2 separate regions of the Homo sapiens genome follow, and region 1 is linked to region 2. The links come from fine-mapping of genetic effects on gene expression. Tissue or cell type: whole blood. Region 2 holds a variant in brackets; the other region holds the start of a gene. All regions are shown on one strand. Distances are from middle to middle.

Region 1 (7,110 bases), 51 kb before region 2:
TGTGCAGTGGCGCAATCTCAGCTCACTGCAAGCTCCACCTCCTGGGTTCACGCCATTCTTCTGCCTCAGCCTCTCGAGTAGCTGGGACTTCAGGCGCCCGCCACCACGCCTGGCTTTTTTATTTTTAGTAGAGACGGGGTTTCACCATGTTAGCCAGGATGGTCTCGATCTCCTGACCTCGTGATCCGCCCACCTTGGCCTCCCAAAGTGCTGGGATTACAGGCGTGAGCCACCGTGCCCCGCCCAGGCCTATTTTTTTAAAGACAGGATCTCCCTCTGTTGCCCAGGCTGGAGTGCAGTAATGCTGATCAAAGCCCACTGCAGTCTTGACCTCTTGGGTTCAAGTGATCCTGCCACCTCAGCCTCCCAAGTAGCTGGGACCACAGGCACACACCACACCTGGGTAATTTAAAATTTTTGTGTAGAGACAAGGTCTCACTATGTTGCCCAGGCTGGTCTCAAACTCCTGGGCTCAAGCGATCCTTCCACCTTGGACTCTCAAAGTGCTGGGATTACAGGCGTGAGCCCCCGAGCTTGGTCCTGGTCATTTCTTGACTGCCTGTCACTTGGGGCCACCCAGCCCGCCAGTGTCTGACTTAGGCTTCTGGCTGATTCTCTGCGGCCACTAAGCTCACAATTGGGGAACCGACTCCATGATTTTGCAACATTTCGATGCCGGACCCTGACGCATTACTGTGAGTCGGGAGGGTCACGTTCCGTTTGTTTTTTGAGACGGTCTGGCTGTCACCCAGGCTGGAGTGAAGTGGCATTGGTGTGATCTCAGCTCACTGCAACCTCTGCCTCCTGGGCTCAAGCCATCCTTCTGCCGCAGCCTCCCGGCATGTAGCTGAGACTACAGGCGCCACCATTCCCAGCTATGTTGTTTTTTTTTTTTTAAAGAAAGAGACAAGGTCTCGCTGTGTTGCCCAGGGCAATTTCAAAATTCCTAGACTCAAGCAATCCCTCCGCCTCGGCCTCCCAAAGTCCTGGGATTACACTGGGATTACAGGTGTGAGCCAGCACACCGGCTGTGGGCCACATTACTTTTGAAAAGTTCTGGATAAAGGCCGGGCGCGGTGGCTCATGCCTGTAATCCCAGCACTTTGGGAGGCCGAGGCGGGCGGATCACGAGGTCAACAGATCGAGACCATCCTGGCGAACATGGTGAAACCCCCGTCTCTACTAAAAATACAAAAAAATTTGCGGGGCGTGGTGGTGGGCGCCTGTAGTCCCAGCTACTCGGGAGGCTGAGGCAGGAGAATGGCGTGAATCCGGGAGGTGGAGCTTGCAGGGAGGTGGAGCTTGCAGTGAGCTGAGATCGCGCCACTGCACTCCAGCCTGGGCGACAGAGTGAGACTCCTTCTCAAAAAAAAAAAAAAAAAAAAAAGAAAGAAAAAGAAAAGTTCTGGATAAAGAACAATGTCAATTAAAAAAGGGGTCCCATCAGTAGAGGCTGAAATCATGACTGAAACTAGCTTAAAGCCCAAAGCAAAACAAAAACCCGAAAGAAGGCCAGGCATGGTGGCTCGCACTATCCCAGCATTTTGGGAGGCTGAGGCAGGTAGATCACCAGAGGTCAGGAGTTTGAGACCAGCCTGGCCAACATGGTGTACTAAAAAATACAAAAATTAGCCAGCTGGAGCGCAGTGGCGCAATCATAGCTCACTTCAGCCTTGACCTTCTGGACTCCAGTGATCCTCCCACCTCGGCCTCCTGAGTAGCTGTCCCAGCTGTCCCACTTACTCAGTGCCCCTCCGGACCCAGCAATTCTTTTTTTTTTTTTTTTTGCAGAGATGGCAGCATGTCTCAAACTCCTGGCCTCAGGCAAACCTCATGTGTCAGCCTCCCAAAGTGCTGGAATTACAGGCACGAGCCACCATGCCTGGCCTAGATTCATTTTTTTAGATGCAGAGAATCTGGGCTTTGGATTTAATGACTTACCAAATAAAGGCTGTCTTTTTTTTTTTTAAAACAAATCAGCAAAACAGGGGCTCTTGGCTAGTTTGCATGAGGCATCCAGGGATGGAGAGATGTGTATTTAAGCTAAAAAAAGAAAAAGTGAAACTCACAGCAGTCTGAGTTTTTATTCAGAAAAGGAAAAAAGAAAGCAACTGAGAGCGAAATAGTTTCCTGGAATGCTGTTTTTTTTTTTTTTTTTTTTTTTTTTTTTTTTTGAGATGGAGTCTCACTCTGTCGCCCAGGCAACAGAGTGCAATGGTGCGATCTCAGCTCATCGCAACCTTCGTCTCCCGGGTTCAAGTGATTCTCCTGCCTCAGCCTTCCCAGCAGCTGGGATTAAAGGCCCCTGCCACCATGCCTGGCTAATTTTTGTATTTTTAGTGGAGATGGGGTTTCGCCATGTTGGCCAGGCTGGTCTCGAACCCCTGACCTCAGGTGATCCACCCACCTTGGCCTCTCAAAGTGCTGGGAGTACAGGCATGAGCCACCGCATCCGACCTTGAAATGCACTTTCTTTGAAACACGTCCTCCCCTTTCTCACCATAAACTCCCTCACACTCTGCAGGTTTACCTAACTGTATGCATCTAATTATGTGATTACCTAAAAGTTCCAGGAACAGGCTGGGCACGGTGGCTCACGCCTGTAATCTCAGCACTTTGGGAGGCCGAGGCGGGCAGATCACCTGAAGTCAGGAGTTTGAGACCAGCCTGACCAACATGGAGAAACCCCATCTCTATTAAAAATACAAAATTAGCCAGGTGTGGTGGCGTGTGCCTGTAATCCCAGCTACTCGGGAGGCTGAGGCAGGAGAATCACTTGAATCTGGGAGGTGGAGGTTGCGGTGAGCTGAGATCGTGCTGCTGCACTCCAGCCTCGGTGACAAGAGCGAGACTGTCTCGAAAAAAAAGAAAAAAGAAAGAACGTTTTAGAGCTAATCTGGAGACAGGCCAAGCACGGAGACCCACCTGCAAAATCCCAGAGATTTCCTCAAGGTGGTCTGCAACCCGGCCCTTATTAGGATGAGGCCAGCCTGCGCTTTTAAGCCACCAAAATTCATGAACACACAGAGCTTATAATCAGCACCTCCCCTGCACACCCACCATTCCCAGTTCCCCTTTTTTAGCCCCTCACCCCAGCCTCAAGTTTGAAGGGGTTTCTGGAGGCCTAAACCAGCTGCCTCCCTGCTGCGAACTCTGAAAGGAAGTCACCTTCCTTTCACTGCACTTTTTCCTCCTTACTGGTTTGTCAAGACTCTGGCATCGGAGCCTGAGCTGGTTACAGCCAGGCACTGTCAAGCTGTTGGGGGAGGGGATGACAAATTCCCTCCCGTTGAGAACCACTTGGTTAAACCTGTCCAACTGGAAGGAGTAACAAATTGCTCATAAAATATGCATGTTTTGGTGAAACCCCTTCTCTACTAAAAGTACAAAAACTAGCCAGAAATCGCTTGAACCCAGGAGGTGGAGGTTGCAGTGAGCCTAGCACTGCACTCCAGCCTGGGTGACAGACTGAGGCTACGTCTCAAAAAAAAAAAAAAAAATGTGCTTGTTTGGCCCAGGAGAGGCAAGAGGTCTTCTTCACCTACGTTACTGGTGAGAAAACTCAAACCTGAGGGCGGCCCACGCCGGAGTGCAGTAACAGGCAGAACTGGAACCTGGCCCCATCCCGGACTCAGGGGACGGGTGTCATATACCCCCTCTGCCTCATCCTTCCCACTCTGCTAACCTTCCAAAGATCCCCCGGGTTCCGAGTTTTCCCTGGCCGCTTGATGGGATTCGAACCTGCAAACTCAGCGCTCGCCCAGCGCAGCGGCCCCGCCTCTCCTCCCCTCCCGCCGCCCGGAGGTCATGTGAGCGCAGTGCCGGAGCGGGGCGGGGCGAGGCGGCGGCGCGCAGTGCCTACTAGCAATTGTAGTCCTTGCCCCACCTTGGCCTGGCGAAGATCCCGCCCCTGGAACTACGCTCCCGTCGTGCTCCGCGGCTCCAGGCGGAGACGAGGCGGGGTGAGGTGGGTTGGGCCGGGCCGGTTGCTAAGACTTGGCGAAGCGCTGCGCTCGCGCCCGGATCCCTCAGGTAAGCGCGCGGCCCCGAGGTCTCGGGTTCTCCAGGCTCAGACTTCCCCAGAGGGGGAGTAGGGGCTGACATGGGGGGTCTCGGCGGTGAGGGGCGCCGGCCGTTTGTGGGGAGAAAACGGGGGGCCCAGGCCAGCCTCGCGCGCGTCTCGGGCGGGCCGGTGGGCGACGCGGGGAGGCGGCGCGAATGCGCGTGCGCGCGCGCGCGCGGCGCTGGCCTGGGGGAAGCCTCAGGACCGCGCTCCCCCGGGCCTAGCGCCTTTCTGCGCGTGTGCGCCCTTATGGTCGGTGCGGGAGACCCCGTATCCTCCAGCTGCTTCCGGTGGCCCTTCCTCAGGTCATGTCCCGCAGTCCCCTGCCTCTGAACCGCGCTCTCGCGAGTTTCCGTAGCCTTCGCGTCCTTCCTCCCCAGCTCTGATTCGCCTTTATGTGGAGATTCCCCTAGGCCTTGGTACATCCCCAGAATTGACCATCGTTCCTCATCGTTACCTAGAGTATGAGTTTTTCAGGTTTTTGTATCACAGGCCCCCAGTTATCTCCCACACACTACCCCGAGGACCGAGGTTCCCCGCTGTCTTGCAGAGAAGGCCTCCTTGTAGGGTGGCCAGAAACAGAGGATCGACTCCGTGGAAACAAGGACGGCTGGGTGCAGTTCCTCACCCTATAACCCCAGCACTTTGGGAGGCCAAGGCGAGTGGATCACCTGAGGTCCGGAGTTCGAGACCAGCCTGTCTAACATGGTGAAACTCCATCTCTGCCAAAAATACAAAAATTAGCTGGGCGTGGTGTCACGCGCCTGTAAAACCAGCTACTGGGGAGGCCAAGGCAGGAGAATCGCTTGGACTTGGGAGGTGGAGGTTGCAGTGAGCCAAGATGGCACCATTGTACTCCAGGCTGAGCAAGCTAGCAAGACTCACTCTCCAAAAAAAAGAAAAAAAGATTTTTTTTTAATAAGCCAGGCATGGTGACACATGTCTGTGGTCCCAGCTACTTGGGAGGCTGAGGCAGGAGGATTGCTTGAGCCCCGGAGGTTGAGGCTGCAGTGAACTGTGATGGCACTACTGCATTCCAGCCTGGGCAACAGAGCGAGACCCTGTCTCTAAATAAATAAATAAAATACATACGTGTAGCGCCGGCCGTGGTGGCTCACGCCTGTAATCCTAGCACTTTGGGAGGCCAAGGCGGGTGGATCACGAGATCAGGAGATCAAGACCATCCTGGCTAACACGGTGAAACCCTGTCTCTACTAAAAATAAAAAAAAGCCAGGCATGGTGGTGGACGCCTGTGGTCCCGGCTACTCCCAAAGGAGGCTGAGGCAGGAAAATGGTGTGAACTCAGGAGGCAGAGCTTGCAGTGAGCCAGGATCGTGCCACTGCACTCCAGCCTGGGCGACAGAGTGAGACTCCGTCTCAAAAAAAAAAAAAAATTGTGTGTGTGTGTGTGTGTGTGTAAAGAAACAAGCCCCAGGCTGGGCGCAGTGGCTCACGCCTGTAATCCCAGCACTTTGGGGGGCCTAGGCAGGTATATCACAAGGTCAGGAGTTCGAGAGCAGCCTGACCAATATGGTGAAATCCCACCTCTACTAAAAATATAAAAAATTAGCCAGGCATAGTGGTGCACATCTGTTGTCCCAGCTGCTTGGGAGGCTAAGGCAGGAGAATTGCTTGAACCAGGGAGGCAGAGGTTGCAGTGAGCCAGGATCGCGCCACTGCCCTCCAGCCTGGGGGACAGAGTGAGACTGTCCCAAAAAAAAAAAAGCCCCCACGCAGACTATTGGTGTGCCCTGGAACTGAGCATTAGCTGTTCCCTCTCCGAGTTCTCTCCCCTACTTCCCCAGCCTTCCAGGCTGGGCTGTGGGTCACTGCCTCCGAGGAGCCCTCCTGGATTCTGCTGAAGATGGTCAGGCCCCTCCATCCCCCCATTTTCTCTTATGTACCTGACAGCCCTGCCTTAAAAAAAAAAAAAAGGTAGAGCAGGAATTCCCATTTCACAGGGGTGGAAGCCGAGGCTTGGAGGAGTCAGGACTGGTGCCTGAGTTCTCGCAGTCAGGAATTGACCGCGCTGGGCTGAACGCCTCTAGGGCAGGTTGGGGACTGGGTGTGTTTTCTGGGTGGACATACCCAGGTCCCGGCGCGGACCTTGGCCTCCTCATCTGTGGGCTTAGATAAAGGCCTCCCAGCCTCCTGTTCACCAGGGTTGTCACCACGCAGGGTCTGACTCACCTGCCTGGAGCTATGCCGGTTCCCAGCCCAGGCTGGCGGCCGTGTTCTGCTGGGACCTGGGACCTGGGCTGCCTGCCCTCCTGAGGGGTCCCAGTGGTCGGTCGCCTGCCTTCTGGGTGGGTGTGGTAGAGGGAGGGTCAGGTGGCCCCCTGCTGTTGGGGGGCAGTCGCTGTGGGAGTGAGTCGTCCCCCCGGGCCATAGCAGGTAGGTAGGAGGTGCTCTGGCAGTTGAGGCCGCCCTGGCCTGGGACAGTCAATCAGCCTGAACACTGTGCCTGTTCCGGGATTTTGACCTGCCCTCCAAGGGCGCGGCGGGCCCAGCCTGCAGTGTCCCGGCAGCTGCCTCCTCTCTGGGTCGTTTGTTTTTCATCAGACAGAGGTTGTACTCTTGGAGGGACAAGCGAGGCTGTGTTTGTCTTTTACCCTGGAGACAGTGGAGTGTTTGTGGCCTAGCAGGGCCGTGCGGGCCTCTCGGTCCTGGTCGCGCGTGGTGTGCGTTTTGGGAGGGCCCAGCGAGTCGGCTGCTATGGGCCCCACCTGGCACGGGGCCTCGGGCAGCGGCAGCACCTGGCGCTGCCTCCGCGCTTCCTGCTCCCGGCTCCCACTGCATCTCCGGTTCTGTGCTTTGTTGAACGCGTGAGCTTCGGGCAGCGCTGGGGCCGCTTCAGCGTGACCTCCAAGGCCACTGGCCTGGAGTTCCACTGGCTGCTGGTCCCCCATCTGTGGGGCGCCCCGGCGGCTGAGGCGTGGACCAGGCAGTGCATGTCGAGGAGTAGCACCCACAGCTGCGCGGCTGCGAAATGATCCAGAGACACATCCCTGTCTGCGGGAGGAGCCGTCCATACCAGCGGGGATGT
Region 2 (7,110 bases):
AGGGCCAGGAGCTGAGTCGTGCGGGACTGGATGGAGGCCAGGGGATATAGAAGACCTGGGCAGCTCCCCAGGACCAAGCCCTCTCGCCTAGGGCTCCCCGGGGAGTTAGGCCGAACCCTGCTGTGCCCTTCACTCTGCAGCCCTCGTGGGGATCATCACAGAGGCAGGAGCTGGCAACCGAGGTGACTGCCTTCGAGTGGAGGGAAACCGGGGCGGGATGTCGCCCGGCGGCTCCCACACGATGAGGGGAAAAGGCACTCCAGTCTGGGTGGCAGAGCGAGACTCCGTCTGAAAAAAAAAACAAAGGAAATGTAGAAACGCAGCCCACCCAGGTTTTCCACGGCCGTTCATGGTTACGCTTCTGGAAGGACCCGTGTCCTCTCAGATGTAGCAGGATTCCGATGGGAGCCACCCCGGGTCCCACTCGCCCCCGGGACCTGCCGTGGGAGCTTTCTTTCCTGGTGGGGTGCCTGACTCTGCCTGCACGTTCCCCCCGCTGTCTGTGGCACCACTTGGGACCGGGGACCCCTGCCCCCCTGGCAAGACCAGGTCAGCTCTGCCCCCGGGCCACGGAGCAGGAAGCAGAGCTGAGGCTGCTGAGGTGGCGCAGGGTTGCTGTGGGGGCCTGTGCGCCATGGGGGCCTGGGTGGGGGTGTTCTCACTTCCCCCGGAGTCTGGAAGGCCGTCTTTGTGATGGATTTGATGCAGATGTGTCCACTTTGCTTTTGTTGATGGCGTCTGAGGCTCTGGAGTCCATGGCAGCCTTGCCTCCGTTTGCATAATCTGAATTTTGGGAAAATTGCCCCTATGTGGACTAGTTGCAGGGACAGTGCCCTCCGCCAAGGCTGCCGGTGGTGTTTGCCTTATGTGTCCGGTGCTGGGTGAGTGCCAGCTTTTCCCTGGTCAGCTCTGCCCGTGGCCCTCACCTGTGGTCTGTGCCATCACCAGGGCGAGGCTGACCTGTGGGACGGGGTCCCTGCACAGCCTCGCCGTCCCCCACATCCCCCCAACAGGGTCTGGTCCCAGCTGCCATTGTGCAGCCTTGCCCCCTCCCCCCGCATCAGGGTCCGGTCCTGGCCGCTGTACCGCGATCACCTGTGGCCCTCCTGTGTTCTTTACCTGGACTCTTGCCTTTGCTGATGGCGACCTGTGACGGCTCAGCTGCGTTCTCAGAGGCCGGCTGTCCTCGTGGGCGTCTCCGGTGCAGTCGGCGCGGTGAGGTTGGCTTCTGCCATGGACGGGGCCTTCTCGTGGTGATGACAGTCGCCCTTGGTCTGGTGTCTGCAGTGCTCCGAGGACCGGCCCTGCCCATCCCTGGCGTTCACTCCTCAGCTTCCTCCCATGGGGTGGGCGGCTTCCCTCCTCTCCCTGATTTGTGGGGTGTTTCTCTTTTGCACCTGATGCGTTAAACCCATTACCGGCCTAGGTCAGCCTGAGGTTGGTTTGTCCTGGCCGCGGCAGCTCCTGCGCCCCTCCATTGTGGAGGGCGCCCTTCCGTCTGCCCTGCGTCACTGGGCTGGGCCTGGCCCCGCTCTGCTGTGGCCCTGGCACTGGAAGTATGTGCTGCCCTGGTGTTCGGGGGCTCTTGGGTCCTGGGGCGCTGCAACCCCTCATTTTCTTTCCTTGGGGTGCAGATGAATTGGGGTGGCAGGGAACCGAGCCCACAGTGGCCAGCCCCTGCGGCCCCAGGTCAGAGGGCAGGGCCGGCCTGGACAGAGCTGCCCAGAACGGTCTGCGGCCGGGTCCACATGAGTCTAGGTGCCTCTGAGGGCACTGGGACGGCGGTGGCCTGCACCTGCCCAGCCCAGTGAGGTCCCTGGCCTCCCTTCAGCTTTGCCCTGGGCTCTGGGCTGAGGGCTGTGTGGTGATGTCAGCCCAGGGACTGTGACATCACTCAGTGGAGACAGTCAGAGAAGGGGGCTCCCGGGGCCCTCCCCAGGGAACTGGCCCTGGGCCCAGACCAGATGGAGGACCCCGAAAAGAACAGGGCAGGTAGCAGCCTGAGGCTAGGGCTGGGGAAGGGGATGGGAGCTGACGGGGAGAGAGCAGCCCCTTGTGGGATGGCTGCAATCCCCTCGTTGGCGCCCGGGAGCCATCCTTGGCGTGTGACCCGGAGCCGGCACTCGCCCCCTGGGACGGAATCGTGGCTGCGTGGGTTGGGTGGAGGCTGGGTGAGGATCAGCGTCCCTTCGTCCCTCCCTGGGGTTGTTGCTTTTCGCTGTGGCCCTCAGGCAACAGGGCAGGCCCCCAACCCCCAGGCCTGCGTGGGCACTGTGGGTGCCCAGCCTTTACGTCCTCGCTTCCTTCCAGGCCCCGGCCTTGTCTGGCTTCCCTTGGGCACCCCCTGGGGTTCGGAGAGCCCCAGAAGAGGCCGGGCTCTTCCTCCTTGGTGATGGACGGGTGCTGGGCCCTGACCGAGTGGTGACCGCCTCCAGGGAGTGATCTGCGCCCTCGGAAGCTGCTGAGTCTTGGAGTGGCGGCTCTTGTTTGTGGGGGCAGGGGGAGCTGGGCACCCGCCCTGTGCCCACGGAACACAGCCCAGGGTGGCGGCCCTGCCTGTCCTCTGACTGCCCTCCTGCTGCTGCTGCTGCTGCTGCGAGGGCCTCAGGCGCAGGCGGTGACTCTCGGGGCCACTCCTGAGGTGGGGGATGTGGGCTAGCGGCCACCGTGGGCGGCAGGTGTGCAAGCAGTGCTCCCGTTTTCCACTGGGCTGCCCTTCACCGGCTGTGGGTCAGCGCCCCCCACTGAGGCTCAGGCTGAGGCGAGGCTCCGCGGGGTGGGCGTGTGCCAGGGTGAGGCTCCGCGGGGTGGGCGTGTGCCTGGGCGAGGCTCCGCGAGTCGGGGGCAGCGCCCAGGTCAGGGGCTTCTCCGTCCATGTCAGGCTTAGGGTGGGTGTGGCTGGGCCCTCCCTCTGCTGTCCGCCCACGACCCCCTCAGAGGGGCTGTCGTGAGATGCTTGGAGGCGGGATCCAGCCCTGAGGGTGCAGGGAGTGCTCAGCGGACCCCCGTGCCACTGCTGTCACCGGAGGAGGCTGCTGCTCGGCTCCGGGCTCCATCTGCAAAGCCGGGTGTGCATCTGTGTGGCTCAGCTCTGCAGGGCACAGTGGGGTTTGCTCCCGGCCGGCCCTGAGGCCGGGCACAGGGAGGCCAGTGCTCATCCAGGGGGCCAGAGAGAAAGTAGCAACCCCAACCTGCCTGGGCCACAACA[G/C]CCAAGACCACTGTATCAGAACAGACGCCAGCGGGGCAGCCTGCTCGTTGGCCGGGCGGAGCAGGGTCGGCACACAGCCCGGGCTGGCCTTCACCCCAGCTCCCGACAGCGTTGGGTCCCTGAGTGCAGGGCCTGCCCCTTTCTCATCCTCCTGCCTCCAGGTCATGGGGCAGGGGTGCCGAGAGGCCCTGCGGGAGCCAGGACCTGAGAGGTGATGGTCACCACCCAGACGAGGGGCCGGGGGTCGCACAAGGAGGCTTCCAGGGGGATGCCAGGAGCAGTGGGGCCCTAGACCCAGCAGTGGGTAGACCCAGCAGGGCAGCGCTCACGTCACAGGTTCTGGGGGTTGGGGCTTGTCATCTGTGCAGGTGCAGCTGGGATGGGGATTTGGTGCTTTTTGTTCTGCAAAAGCCAGAACGCATGTAGCTGAGCCAAGATCAGACGGCATGGTGCCTCATGCCTGTGGTCCCAGCTACCTGGGAGGATGAGGCGGGAAAATTGCTTGAACTCGGGAGGCGGAGGTTGTAATGAGCCGAGATCCTGCCACTGCACTCCAGCCTGGGTGATGGAGCTAGATCCTGTCTCAAAAAACAAAAGACCACGCATCCTAGCCGGCAAGGCCACTCTGTACTCAGACCCGGCAGCTGTGGCTGTGGCACAGGCGCTTACCCTGCGGCATTGGCCCTTTCAGTGGTTGGTGTTGACCCTCCACAGAGGGGCTGGGTGGGGTGTGTCCAGTCCCATCTGGGTAGACTGAGTGTTGGGGATGGGAGAGTGTTTAAGGAGGTGGCGGTTACAGACTCCAGCATCGGGACACGGGGCCGTGGGTCATACCCACATCCGTGGGGGCTGTGAGACAGCCGTCCAGAAGCTTCTGTCTCCGGGCCAGGAGGACACCCCAGAGAGCCCCAGGAGGCTCGTTCCGGAATTTAGGGCTCAGCCTCGATGAACCTGGCCAGGCGGCGGTTGATGGGTTAATTCAGTTAATCACACATCACTCAGGGTTTCTCAGCAGAAGGAACTGACCAAGCCAATGGCTCACCTGGAAGAGAGAAGGAGGGAGGAGGAGGGGATTCTGCAGAGGGAAGGCTGGTGGTGGCGCCCCCCTTCGACGGTCGTGCCCTGATGCTGCGTGGCTTAAACGGTGCCACCCGGAGATTGGTGGGCGGGATTGGGCCTCTGGGGTCCCCGGCTGTGGAGAGGGCAAGGCAGGGGCGGCTAGAAAGAAAAGCAACCTGGACGCAGGCCCCACCTCCCTCCAGGCAGCCCCACAGGCCCGAGGGCCACCGTGTCAGGAGGGATAGCCTACACGGAGAGCAGGCCAGTGGCCCTGTGCCCAGGAGGGTGCCTTGCCCAGCCTGGAGGCCCGCAAGGATGAGAAGCAGTGTGTGCCCGGGAGGTCACGTGGGCACCACAGACGAAAGTGGAGCCGGGGGAGAGATGTCCCGGGATGCACCAGGCGCTCGTGCAAACCAAGTGCTGAGCAGAGAGCAGCCTGGGAGAGAAGGGGGCTGCCCCGAGCGGCTTGGGTGGCCGGGCCTGTGGGAGACCTTGGGTTTGCTGTTAGGAGGGACAGTGAGCGCAGGCACCTCTCTCTCCACTTCATGTTTGTCCTCACTGAGGGAGCCGAGCAGATGCCTTTGCCCCTGCAGGTCCCCCATGTCCCCTCGCCCGGGGCGCGCTCCACAGGCTAGGCCACTTTCACAGCTCACCACACAGGCAGAGACTGGAGGGTGCGCAGGACCCCGGGTGACTGCAGACGTGGGCACAGAGGGGCCTCTGAGGGCGTCTGGCGGCATTTGAGCAGCTGCCAGATCTCCCCTGGAAACACTGGGGTGTGTGCTCGGTGGGTGCCGTGTGTGGGGGGTATGTGCTCGGCGGGCGCCGTGTTTGTGGGGTGGGAGCTAGGCGGGCGCCGTTTATGTGGGGTGGGCGCTCGGCGGGCACTGTGTGTGTGGCACGGCCACTGCTTAGGGCCCCCTGGAGCTGCGGGGCACACGGCAGAGCCAGCCTCATGTCACCACGTGCTTCCCCCGTGTGCAGGGAGGGGTTGGAGGTGTGCGCTTGTCTTGTCCGGAAGCCGGGTGTTGGGACGCGTCCTGACGACGGCACTGCCCACATCCTAATGGGACACCTGAGGGACATCGGTGGCTGAGTAAGGGGCCCCTCCCGAGCAGGTCTGGAGGCGTTGGAAGCACAGCGCAGCCTCATGGGGCACCTGCCTGCTCTGCCTGGAATTGAGGGGCGATTGGGACTCCCACTGCCCCCACCAAAGCCTGTGCCCCTGATGTCTGTCCAGAGCACGGCTTCCTTCTCGGTGGTTCCCAGAGGCCGCTGGGCCTCGCTTCGTCCTTTTTGGGCAGCGAGTGTGTATGTTAGGGGAACAGGAGCCCGGCAGGGCCGTCTTGCAGGGCTCAGCAGTGGGGGCCGTGGGGTTGGTGCACCAGGGCAGGAGAGCTGCCCGGCTCCTGCTAGGTGTCTAGAGGGCCTCAGCTCTCCCAGGCACTGTCCCCTGTCCCCCCATCTCCCCTGTCCCCCCCATCTCCCCATCCCCCCGTCCAGGGCCGCAGCAGCTCAGCTCTCCCAGGCACTGTCCCCTGTCCCTCCGTCCCCCCGTCCAGGGCTGCAGCAGCTCAGCTCTCCCAGGTACTGTCCCCCGTCCCCCTGTCCCCCCGTCCCCCCGTCCAGGGCCGCAGCAGCTCAGCTCTCCTAGGCACTGTCCCCCGTCCCCTCGTCCCCCCATCCAGGGCTGCAGCAGCTCAGCTCTCTCAGGCACTGTCCCCCCTCCCCTCGTCCCCCCATCCAGGGCCGCAGCAGCTCAGCTCTCCCAGGCACTGTCCCCCGTCCCCCTGTCCCCCCATCCAGGGCCGCAGCAGCCCAGCTCTCCCAGGCACTGTCCTCCGTTACCCCGTCCAGGCACTCTCCCCCCGTCCCCCATCCCCCGTCCAGGCACTGTCCCCCCTCCCCCCGTCCCCCCCACCCCCGTCCAGGGCCACAGCAGCCGGTATTGAGTGTGGGTATGAGCTTTGGCTCTGGGTCCTGAGCGTCCCTTCCCCAAATTCCCCATGTGGCTTCCCAGTCTGCATCTCCATCTGCTCCCAGGGTGCGAGTTGGTTTTTGTATTAATAACTGAGGTGTGACACTCGGGCTGTACCCGCTAGCTGTGTAACTCATGCAGCTCAGTGCCTTTAGCTCATCATGAGGCTGTGTCTCTGTCTGTGCCATCTAATAGAGGATATTTTCATCCTCATGGCGAGAAGGGATGGATTTGTTTTCCTCGTGAAGTCGGTGACGTTTGCTTTTCAGGTTTGGTTGGTGGCCTCCAGTCTCTTGTCCTCAACGAGGGTTTTGGCAGCTCCCTCTCAGTGGCCTGTGAGTGTCCCCACTCCCTTGTCTGGGAAAGGGCTGGAGCTCTGGGGCTCACAGAGAGGGTGGGTGTGATGTCTTTTTCCTGACGTGGCATCGGGGTGTCTTACCTGCCCGGACACCTGCCTGCGCAGGGTAGCACAGACCCTACAGGCTGCGGCTGAGCCCCCAGCACCCGCCCCACCTTTAATGCTCGGCCCCCAGCACCCGCCCCACCTTTAGTACCACCCTGAGTCCCCCAGCACCTGTGCCACCTTTAGTGCCACCGTGGGTCCCCCAGCACCCGTCCCACCTTTAGTGCCACCCTGAGTCCCCCAGCACCCGTGCCACCTTTAGTGCCACCGTGGGTCCCCCAGCACCCGCCCCACCTTTAGTGCCACCGTGGGTCCCCCAGCACCCGTCCCACCTTTAGTGCCACCCTGAGTCCTCCAGCACCTGTGCCACCTTTAGTGCCACCGTGGGTCCCCCAGCACCCGTCCCACCTTTAGTGCCACCCTGGGTCCCCCAGCACCCGCCCCACCTTTAGTACCACCCTG

The links. PIP is the estimated chance that this variant, and not a neighbour inherited with it, causes the effect.
Region 1: it holds the start of SCAMP4, and the variant in region 2 is fine-mapped to the expression of SCAMP4 in whole blood (TOPMed, PIP 0.95).

The regions. Positions count from the first base shown.
Region 1 is chr19:1,901,408-1,908,517 of GRCh38, forward strand. SCAMP4 (secretory carrier membrane protein 4) reads left to right here and starts at 3,992. Exons shown (of 7, transcript NM_079834.4): 1 at 3,992-4,032. ADAT3 (adenosine deaminase tRNA specific 3) reads left to right here and starts at 3,992. Exons shown (of 2, transcript NM_138422.4): 1 at 3,992-4,032. RefSeq lists enhancers at 2,986-3,045, 3,326-3,385, 4,406-4,495, 6,571-7,110 and silencers at 3,716-4,045, 4,096-4,245.
Region 2 is chr19:1,952,724-1,959,833 of GRCh38, forward strand. The region is part of intron 1 of CSNK1G2 (casein kinase 1 gamma 2); the gene reads left to right. CSNK1G2-AS1 (CSNK1G2 antisense RNA 1) reads right to left here and starts at 1,826. Exons shown (of 3, transcript NR_033400.1): 1 at 1,120-1,826; 2 at 663-783; 3 at 1-288. RefSeq lists an enhancer at 2,207-3,158. The variant G/C (reference allele first, on the strand shown) is at 3,209.